3 linked regions of the Homo sapiens genome follow. The protein of the gene in region 1 purifies or fractionates together with the protein of each later gene. This does not show direct contact. Each region holds a gene or a part of one and is shown on either strand. Other genes may lie near its edges.

Evidence for each region.
Region 2: the proteins of CNN2 (region 1) and ATE1 purify together in Homo sapiens (affinity purification with mass spectrometry; 3 studies listed by BioGRID and IntAct, with this or other methods). This does not show direct contact.
Region 3: the proteins of CNN2 (region 1) and ALAD purify together in Homo sapiens (affinity purification with mass spectrometry; 2 studies listed by BioGRID and IntAct, with this or other methods). This does not show direct contact.

Annotation. Positions count from the first base shown.
Region 1 is NC_000019.10:1,036,467-1,039,574, reverse strand, and holds the end of CNN2 (calponin-2), read right to left. Parts: coding exon 3,013-3,108; intron 1,951-3,012; coding exon 1,675-1,950; 3' UTR 510-1,674; downstream 1-509. UniProt on the Homo sapiens protein: Thin filament-associated protein that is implicated in the regulation and modulation of smooth muscle contraction. It is capable of binding to actin, calmodulin and tropomyosin. The interaction of calponin with actin inhibits the actomyosin Mg-ATPase activity.
Region 2 is NC_000010.11:121,900,348-121,904,097, forward strand, and holds part of ATE1 (arginyl-tRNA--protein transferase 1), read right to left. Parts: intron 2,274-3,750; coding exon 2,044-2,273; intron 1-2,043. UniProt on the Homo sapiens protein: Involved in the post-translational conjugation of arginine to the N-terminal aspartate or glutamate of a protein. This arginylation is required for degradation of the protein via the ubiquitin pathway. Does not arginylate cysteine residues.
Region 3 is NC_000009.12:113,394,600-113,398,349, forward strand, and holds part of ALAD (delta-aminolevulinic acid dehydratase), read right to left. Parts: exon of another isoform or gene 3,479-3,750; intron 2,676-3,478; exon of another isoform or gene 2,447-2,675; intron 1,857-2,446; exon of another isoform or gene 859-1,856; coding exon of another isoform or gene 808-858; intron 1-807.

The sequences.
Region 1 (3,108 bases):
TGAGGAAAACCCGTTTCCCACTCTGGAAGAAGAGTTGAAATAAACTCTTCAGGCTGGAGGTGAAGCTGAAATGGGAGCGTGTGGGTCCACAGCTTTGAAGGCGCTGGGGAGAGTGAGAGGCGTGGGGACGGCTCCCGCGGCAGGAGGTGGCATTGCCGTTGGGGCTTTGAGGATAAATAGGAGTTCGCCAACGGGGAGACATCCAGGCTGAGGCCACGAGACTTGCGCTGTAAGGTAGAGTGCAGCCAAAGCGCATGGGGGGCATTTGAGGGAACTGCCTCTTCTCCAAATGGCCAGGAAGCCCAGCCTCTCCCTCTACCCCAAGTCCCGGCCCTTCAAATCATTCATTCCACCCAGACTCACCTGTGGCTTCAGCTTTTGCTCCTCCTCCCAATGGTGAGGTGGACATTTTCCCCTTGATCCCCCCATCCCCCAAGACCTCCTCTCTCCCCACAAAAGCATCAAAGCAAAGCACGCCCTCATCGACGCCAACTCTCTTGGCCACCTTCTCTTCGTACAAACAGAGGTTTTATTGCGTTTGGTCCACAGTCGTATTTCACATTATCTCACGGAGCAGGTCCCCTGGGTGGGGGGTCCCTGTGCAGTACTTGGCGGGGCATGTGGCCGGGGAAGATGGAGCAGTATAAGCTGGTCGGGCCCAGAAGGGAGGAGGGCTGGGGGCTCCTTAAAACCTACTGAGGGGCTGGGCACGGTGGCTCACACCTGTAATCTCAGCGCTTGGGGAGGCGGAGGCGGGCGGATCACACCTGAGGCCAGGAGTTCGAGACCAGCCTGGCCAACATGGGGAAACCCCATCTCTACTAAAAATACAAAAATTAGCCGGGCGTGGTGGAGCACCTGCAGTCCTAGCTACTCAGGAGGCTGAGGCTGGAGAATCGCTTGAGCCCGGAAGGTGGAGGTGCAGTGAGCCAAGATGGCGCCACTGCACTCCAGCCTGGGCAACAACCACAACTGAAAAAAAAATCTACTGAGGCCAGAGTGGGTTGGGGCGGGGAGCATGGAGAGGGGGTCAGGCTTAGCCCCAACAACTCAGAATTTCACTTCCTTGTACGGCCCTCACTTTCTCCACCTGGCCCCGGGGCAGGTCTGAGGGTCTGAAGTCTGTTGGTCTGAAGGTCCTAGGCAAATCCAGTCACTTGGGAGCCGGAGATATTTAACATCACGGCCCGGTCCCCTTTCCCAGGGGACTCATTTCCTAGCACTCTCTCCACTGTCCTTGCCCCACCCCTGGGGGAAAAAATGTATTTTTCTTTTGTGAATACTTCCTGAAACTTGCGGGCATAGAAACCACAAACTGCTCAGCTGACAAAAGGGGGAAGAGGCGAGGCAAGCAGAAACCGTCGGGGACCGGTTCCTTCCAAGCCCAGGTCTCTTCTTCCCAGCACAGCCTGAATGTGCCAGCAGGGACCCTCGCCCTACACGTATTGGGATATGGCCTTGACCCCTTCCCCCACAGCCCAGTGGCTCAGCCTTGCGAAGGATCAAGGCAAAGGGGAAAAAAGCTCTGCTGCCTGATCCCACGCTGACACTCACAGACCCTTGGTTGACTGGCAGCACTGAACGGGTTAAGAAAAAAAAAAAAAAGATGAAAACACAGAAAAACCCAAAAACCCAGATGGGCAGACGATGTGGGGAGAGAGCGTGCTGGGAGCCTCAGTAGCCGGCCTCCTCCTGGTAGTAAGGGGGATATTCAGGGACCTCCCCCGGGTCCGGGCAGTCGCCGGTGCCCGAGGGAGCCCCATCGGCCACTGTGCCTTGCGGGCAGTACTTGGGGTCATATATCTGCCGGCCCAGGCCGAAGACCTGGCCGCTCTGGTTGGCGCCCTGCGTGTAGCCCATCTGCAGGGACATGGAGGAGTTGTCACACTTGTCGGTTCCCAGCTTGGTATCATAGATGTGCCGCCGGGTCCCGGGAGCCGTCATGCCCACCTGGAGAGGAAGGAGGGGTGGAGCAGGTCATGGTGGAGAGAAGAGGGGACCTTCACTGGGTGCACTGGCTCACGCCTGTAATCCCAGCACTTTGGGAGGCCAAGGTGGGAGGATCACCTGAGGTCAGGAGTTCCAGTCCAGCCTGGCCAACACGGTGAAACCCTGTCTCTCCCAAAAATACAAAATTAGCTGGGCGTGGTGGCACATGCCTGTAATCCCAGCTACTCGGGAGGCTGAGGTGGGAGGATCACCTGAGGTCAGAAGTTCAAGACCAGCCTGGCCAACACGGTGAAACCCCATATCTACTAAAAATACAAAAATTAGCCGGGCGTGGTGGCGGGCGCCTGTAGTCTCAGCTACTCGGGAGGCTGAGGTGGGAGGATCACCTGAGGTCAGGAGTTCAAGACTAGCCTGACCAACACAGTGAAACCCCGTCTCTACTAAAAATACAAAAATTAGCTGGGTGTGGCCGGGTGCGGTGGCTCACACCTGTAACCCTAGCAGTTTGGGAGGTCAAGGCGGGTGGATTGCCTGAGCTCAGGAGTTCGAGACCAGCCTGGGCAACATGGTGAAACCCCATGTCTACTAAAAATACAAAAATTGGCCGGGTGTGGCAGCATGCACCTGTAGTCCCAGCTACTCGGGAGGCTGAGGCAGGAAGGAGAATCTCTTGAACCCGGGAGGCAGAGGTTGCAGTGAGCCGAGATCGTGCCACTGCACTCCAGCCTGGACAACAGAGTGAGATCCTATCTCAAAATAAATACATAAATAAAATAAATAAAGATTAAAAAAAAAGAATTGGGTGGACCTTTGGGCAGTCCTTAAGGGAAAATGACACAGGGTGAGGTAGTAACTTCCCTAGAGACCCACAGCCAGGTGGAAATGACAGAGGCTGAAATCCAAGGCGGAGACAGAGAGCGGGGAGGGAAGCCGGAGGTGGTCTAGGGAAGGGGCTGAGACTGAGAGTGGGGAGAGAAGCTGGAGGTGGCCCCAGGGAGGGGCCGAGACCACAGGGTGTAGAGGGGCAGGGAGAGGAGTCGGGGGCACCCGGGCGAGCCCCACCTGGCTGGCACACTTGTTCGTGCCCATCTGGAGGCTGATGGTCGAGTGGTCCATGGGGGGCAGGATATGGTTCTTGGGGTCATAGAGATGCCTTCT
Region 2 (3,750 bases), on another chromosome or scaffold:
ATTCTAAGAAAGACTAAAAATATGAATACATTTTTTGGCCACTCATTCATCATTGCTAACCCTCAACTTAAAACTTGACTGTTTGAGTTAAAAAGACCTCATAAAGTTTTCCTACTTCATAGCATAGTTAACAACCATGACTCTGAAGTCACATTTCCTTTGTTCAAATCTTACAATGTCACCATCTTGGTCAAGTAACCTTGTAAAATAAGGATAAGTTTAAAACAGTAATTGCACGCAGTAATGGCTAACATTTACTTTAACATTATTTACTAGCCACTTAAAATGTATTAGCAAAACAGAACAGTAAAACAGTCAAATGCAATGCAATGAAAACAGCTGGAAACTGGACATGTGTGCCGTGAGACGTAATTCTATGAAGAAAGAGCGACACCCAGTGGTAAAAGATCTCTATACATCCTGAGTATCATTACATTCAAAAAGTACAAGTAACCACTGGAGAACTGTTATGTTAAGCGTGCTTGGCCTCCTGAATACATTACTATTTATGATCAAAGATAAAAGACACCTTGTAAAATATTTTAAGTAGTGTATTCAACTCTGTTTACAATTTTGGAAGGACAAAAAAATCTGTATCCAAATCAGAGTAGCCAAGGAGTTATAAAAGCTAAAATCTGGCCAGGCAAGGTAGCTCACACCTCTAATCCCAGCACTTTGGGAGGCCGAGGCGGGTGATCACCTGAGGTCAGGAGTTCGTGACCAGCCTGGCTGACATGGTGAAACCCTGTCTCTATTAAAAATATCAGAAATTAGCCGGGCGTAGTGGTGGGCACTTGTAATCCCAGCTACTCAGAAGGCTGAGACAGGAGAATCGCTTGAACCCAGGAGGCAGAGGTTGCAGTGAGCCGAGATCGCGCCATTGCACTCCAGCCTAGGCAACAAGAGTGAAACTCCGTCTCAAAAAAAAAAGCTAAATTCTACGTCTGATAATACATATACTGAATTAAGGCTTAGAATGCATGAAAGTTAATTTTTATTATCAGGACTTCAGTGATAAGTGATATTTTTAGATGATAGTAAGCTACAAAATTCAAAGGCTGACCAGTTACTAATCACATATGAGAATAAGATAAAAATCATTATGGCTAATGTTTTTGAATTTTTTTGAGACAGTCTTTTGCTCTGTCACGCAGGCTGGAGTGCAGTGGTGTGATCTCAGCTCGCTACAACCTCCACCTCCTGGGTTCAAGCAATTCTGGTGTCTCAGCCTCTCTAGGAGTTGGGATTACAGGTGCACGCCACCACGCCTGGCCAATTTTTATATTTTAGTAGAGACGGGGTTTCACTGTGTTGGCCAAGCTGATCTCAAACACCAGACCTCAAGAGATCCACCTGCCTCGGCCTACCAAAGTGCTAGGATTACAGGTGTGAGCCACCACATCCAGCCCTTGTTTTTGAATTTTATATATGAGAAACTAATACTGAGAAATCTTGATCTGATCTAGAAACGAAAATAAATTTGGAAAAATGGAGGAATTTGGCTCTAAAAGTATTCATATTATGCCCAAAGTGGTTTTGGCACTAATGAGAGAGGATTTCAGCAGTACAATTTAGCCCTATTTAGATAATTCCTAACTGCTGGCTTATGTATATGACACCATTTGCTGTCTTTACCAAGATCAGAATATTATAATGGATGAAATAGTGATTTGCCTTGTGTAATCTATTGTCTTTCACTATCTAAACCAAAACTGCTAAAAACACAATTTTAAAGAGTATTTCTTTCATTTTAACTATTAAATTTCAATCAAGGTAGCATGCTAAAATTGACACTGTTTTCACAAGTTTGGTGGCCAACTATGTATTCTCAAAAAGTCTTTTAAAAAAAAAGGAGTTTCCCTCAAACAGCAGTTAACTTAGTAAATACAAATGTTACTTCTTCCCAGTTCTCTTTAATTTCTTTTAAATTCTCATTATTTAACTAGCAAACATCAACTAATTAGAACTTCAAATAAAAATAAACGATATGCCCAAACAAAAAAAAATCATAATAAAACAAACAACAAAAGTCCTCCAAAGTACCTCTAACTTGTGTGATGCATTCTCTGGTAAAGACTCAAAAATTAAATCTTCGAGTGATTTTGGCTGGTTGGATTTAGCCTTTGGTGGAAACAAAGATGGTGGGTGACCTTGAGCCTGGAAACCCTCAAGTTCTCCAGCTGGGTTCTGCTGCATTAGTTTTAACCTTTTCCTTTCTTTCCGGATTTCCTTTGCTTTTCGACATGGAGGCTTACTCAAATCAGCCCCTTTGCCTAAAAAGAATTTTAAAATATTAGACCAATCACATTTGGTTCTAGAAAAGTTTTTTCACATGTCTCAAAGATTCTACAGTGTAAGTCCAAAGAGTTTCAATGGTTAGGCTAGCTTTGGGGTAGATGTTTCAGAGGATCCTGATACAGAGCTGTAAGTGGATCTAAAATTCTACCTTAGAAGTGGGAGTTGCTAGAGAAAGTAAATAGCACAGAAACTTTCCAAGGTGGCTCTTACTGCTGAAAATCTTTTTTTTCTTTTTTTTGAGACAGAGTCTCGCTCTGTCACCCAGGCTGGAGTGCAATGGCATGATCTCAGCTCACTGCAACCTCCGCCTCCCAGGTTCAAGCAATTCTCCTGCCTCAACCTCCCGAGTAGCTGGGACTACAGGTGTGTGCCACCGTGCCTGGCTAATTTTTGTATTTTCAGTAGAGATGGAGTTTCACCATGTTGGCCAGACTGGTCTCAAACTCCCTTGGACAGACTGGTCTCAAACTCCTGACCTCGTGATTCACCCACCTTGGCCTCCCTAAGTGCTGGGATTACAGGAATGAGCCACCAGGCCCGGCCCAAATATCTTTTTTTAAAAAAAAACATTCATCCACTTCTCTGCCTTTGTGAGGAAGAACACAATCAAATCAAAGTACCTGCTGCATTAAAAGGACACTGCTATCTCTGCCCAACATTTCTGAGGGACATTTCTCTGAAAGCACTGGTAACATAAATACTTAGGAACCAGGTATAAAGGAATACTGATCCCAGCGCAAACACTGACAGGTTTTTTTAAATTAAAAGAATCCTTGTGCACCTGGAATTCTAGCACTTTGGGGGGCTAAGGCGGGCAGATCACCTGAGGTTGAGAGTTCGAGACCAGCCTGGTCAACATGGTGAAACCCCATTTCTACTAAAAATACAAAAATCAGCCAGGTGTGGTAGCACACACCTGTAATCCCAGCTACTCAGGAGGCTGAGGCATTAGAATCACTTGAACCCAGGAGGCAGAGGTTGTGCTGAGCTGAGATGGCACCACTGCACTCCAGCCTGGGCGACAGAGTGAGACTCTGTCTCAAAAAACAAAAAAGGAATCCTTGCTTAGTTGAAGGTATCTGTGTCTTTCTCCAAATACTGCAGGTATTTGGGTCTCATTAGTTCAGCTGTAGTTAATCAGAGTTTTGTTCTAATTAACAGACCAAATATCAAACTGACATCCCTTTAAAATAAAAAAATTTTTACTATTATAAACTAAATAAAAATACTTAGAAAAAAACCTGGAAAGGAGACACCATGGTAACAGTCATTTTACTTTGTTTCAGAAACAGAGACAGGATTTACCTTTCTTTGTAGTGTTCTCTTTTCTCCAAATTTTCTTTTTTTTTTTTGAGACAGAGTCTCGCTCTGTCACCCAGGCTGGAGTGCAGTGGCGCCATCTGAGCTCACTGCAACCTCTGCCTACCGGACCATTCGAGCAATTCTCCTGCC
Region 3 (3,750 bases), on another chromosome or scaffold:
AAAAAGAACTAATCCTTCCTTATGCATAAAGAAGCACTGATCTAGCCAACATTTAAACTTTGTTTATTCCACAAAAAATGCCCGTGTTCATGGCAGAACTTTTAGAAAAGTGCAGATAAGCAAAAAGAGAAAAATCCCCTGCAATTCTACCTCTAGAGAAAAGTACTGTTGGCCGGGCATGGCGGCTCACACCTATAATCTCAGCACTTTGGGAGGCTGAGATGGGCAGATCACTTGAGGTCAGGAGTTCGAGACCAGCCTGGCCAACACAGTTAAACCCCACCTCTACTAAAAATACAAAAAAAATTAGCTGGGCGTGGTGGTGCGTGCCTGTAATCCCAGCTACTGGGGAGGCTGAGGCAGGAGAACTGCTTGAATCCAGGAGGAGGAGGTTGCAGTAAGCCGAGATAGCGCCACTTCACTCCAGCCTGGGCGACAGAGCAAGACTTCATTCCAAAAAAAAAAAGAAAGAAAGAAAAGAGAAAAGTACTTGGGACATGGATTTTTTGTTAGGTACAATGCACACCAATAGGAGAAAATAGTACCATTCATGTTAGATAGACAGACAGACACATACACTGTATAGAGTGCCACCAAATCTTTTCTAGCCCAAGGAGTTTCCTGGGCTCCACGAGCACAAGCTACACCTTCTTGCTTTCCTAACCTTGTCCCTTTACCTGAAAGGCTGTGCTCTCCCCACAGCCTCCCCGCACCCAAATCTACAGGGTTCTCCTTCCCTCTCCCACTGAGGCTGTCTTGTCCAGATTGCAGTCTCTCTTATGTAAGTTATCTGTGGACCTGTCTTACCTCATGCCAGTAGACAGAGCTTCTGCAGGGCAAGGTCCAGAGTTGGTTCATTTTTGCCTCCCCTACAGTGCTCTGTCACACACTGACCTTGGCACACAGTAAATATTTAATTACGTGAAGTACAAAAATATGCTCCAAATGCCAAATTAGTGGACACAAGACAGAAGGAAGCTGGGGCATTAACATTTGTTTCTTGAGCACCTACTGTGTGCCAGACCATGCCTGGCATTTTCACAGGTGATTTCTCATCAAGTGGGCACTACAGTCCTGGCAGGCAGGGCTGATTGAGTGCATGGAGCCTGACCAGAAGTGAGCCATGGCTCCAATGGGAGTGAGGAGGTCAGAAGAGGCATATTAGAAGAAGACAGGCGCCAGGCGTAGTGGCTCACACCTGTAACCCCAGCACTTTGGGAGGCTGAGGCGGGTGGATCACTTGAGGTCTGGAGTTTGAGACCAGGCTGGCCAATGTGGTGAAACTCCGTCTCTACTAAAAATACAAAAATTAGGCCAGGCACGGTGGCTCACGCCTGTAATCCCAGCACTTTGGGAGGCCGAGGTGGGTGGATCACTTGAGGTCAGGAGTTTGAGACCAGCCTGACCAACATGGTGAAACCCCATCTCTACTAAAAATAAAAAAAAATTAGCCGGGTGTGGTGGCACATGCCTGTAATCCCAGCTACTTCAGAAGCTGAGATAGGAGAATCCTTTGAACTTGGGAGGCGGAGGTTGCAATGAGCCGAGATCGTGCCATTGCACTCCAGCATGGGCAACAAGAGAGAAACTCCATCTCACAATAAATAAATAAATAGAAATAAAAATAAAAATACAAAAATTAGCTGGGTGTGGTGGTGTGCACCTGTAGTCAGAGTTCCTCTGGAGGCTGAGGCAGAAGAATCGATTGAACCTAGGAGGCAGAGGTTGCAGTGAGCCGAGAGTGCACCCATTGCACTCTAGCCTGGGCGACAGTGTGAGACTCCATCTCAAAAAAAAAAAAAAAAAAGAAAATGACAGGGCGTTGAACTTGGTTTTGCAGGATGAGTGGGTTCAGCCTGGTGGAGAGAAGGGGGCCAATATTTCCTTAGGAAGGGAAGAAAGGGGCAAAGGTGGGGAAGGAGGATGGCTGTGGACTGTTTTGAGGAGCTGAGGCAAGTGTGTATGGAGGGGATGGATAAGAGGGGGCCAGGCTGAGGCTGTGGGAAGATTTCTGAGCAGTGGGTAGGGTTAGTGGCCTGGTTGACACCTGGCTTTGGGAAGATCAATCCTGCAGGCTGAGCAGAGCAGACAGGAAGCAGAGGAATGCAGAGGCTGGGGAGGCTGCGGGCAGAGAAGGAAGGGGCGTCTTAAGGCAGCCAACAGGCAGTGTCTCAGGGCGGATGCTCTAGGCCTGCCTGCCTGCCTGATCTAAAGGGCAGCGGAGACAGGGACAGGGCAGGAAGAGGGCAGTGGGGAGCTGGGCTTGGAGAGGAGGTGGAGAGCTCTGTTTTAGACACTTCCTTTTGGAGGTGCCTGGGAGACTATCCCATAGCCAAAGGATGGGGAGGGGCGGGGAAGAGCCACAAAAATGGGGGCTGGCAGGCCTGAGTCCAACTGCTTTTTGTATGAATGGGACCTCAAGGTCCAGAGAGGGGCAAGGACTTACCCAAAGCCACACAGCGAGCAAAAGGACTAGAACCCTGGTGTGTTAACTCCCAGGTGAACTGGGAGATCCTTTGGTAGGTTGGAGTCAAGTCAGATGTCGAAGCCAGGTCTAATCCCTCTAATTTGCTTCCCAGAAAACCACCTTTGTAACAGGTCCTTGGCTTCTGGAATCCAAAGCTGCATTCCCGTGGCCTCAACTCCTCATTGCTTTCAGGAGGCTGAGGGAACAACTGCCTCCTGCTTATCAGAAACAGTGGGGCAGGGCTGCCTAGGAACTGGCTGCCCTTCTCCCCATAGTCTCTTAGGCCCCTTTAGCTGCCTTCAGCCATCTCAGGGGCCCATTTTATCCAGTCTTCCTCCTTGGTAGGGTGGGGTTATCACAAGTCACACAGGGGCCAGCCCTGCTGCCACACCCCTGGGTGGGCCAGCCCCATCACCTAACACAGGGGCAGGCCAGGCCTCCCCAGTCATGTCTCAACCTCCAAACAGACAATTATTCAGTAGATATGAGGTCCCAGCTGCCCATTTCGTACTCGATTTTGCTCTCATGTCTGCCAGGAGTTTTTTTTCCTTTTCTTTTTTTTTTTTTTTTTTTTTTGAGACAGAGTCTGGCTCTGTCACCCAAGCTGGAGTGCAGTGGTTCGATCTCGGCTCACTGCAACCTCCACCTCCTGGGTTCAAGTGATTCTCCTGCCTCAGCCTCCCAAATAGATGGGACTACAGGCATGCATGACCATGCTTGGCTAATTTTTGTATTTTTAGTAGAGACAGGGTTTCGCCATGTTGGCCAGGCTGGTCTCAAACTCCTGACTTCAAGTGATCCGCCCGCCTCTGCCTCCCAAAGTGCTGGGATTACAGGCGTGAGCCACCGCACCTGGCCGAGAGAATATTTTTGCATATTGAGAGAATTACCAAAATGTAAGCCAGTTGCCCAAGACCACATAGCTACTTAGTGACTGAGCCAGAATTTGAATTTGTTCTGGACTCCAAATGCTGGGTTTTATATACTGTATTTCATAATACTGATAAACACCTGATTCAGTAGGCGTCTCTCTGCCCATACTGTTTCTGCTTTGGGTGCTGGAGAGACAGAAGAAACAAAAGAAAAACATACTGAGTGTATTCGTTCTGTGCTGGGCACAGCACTGAAGTACTTGGTAGTAGTATCTCATTTCATTGCAAGAATTGTCCTAACTTTTAGTGATAAGGAAACAGAGGCTCTGAGCGGTTCAGTGACTTGCTTAATGCCATTCTAGAGTCTAGTCAGATGTTGAAGAGAGGTCTAATCTCTCTGACTCACTTCCC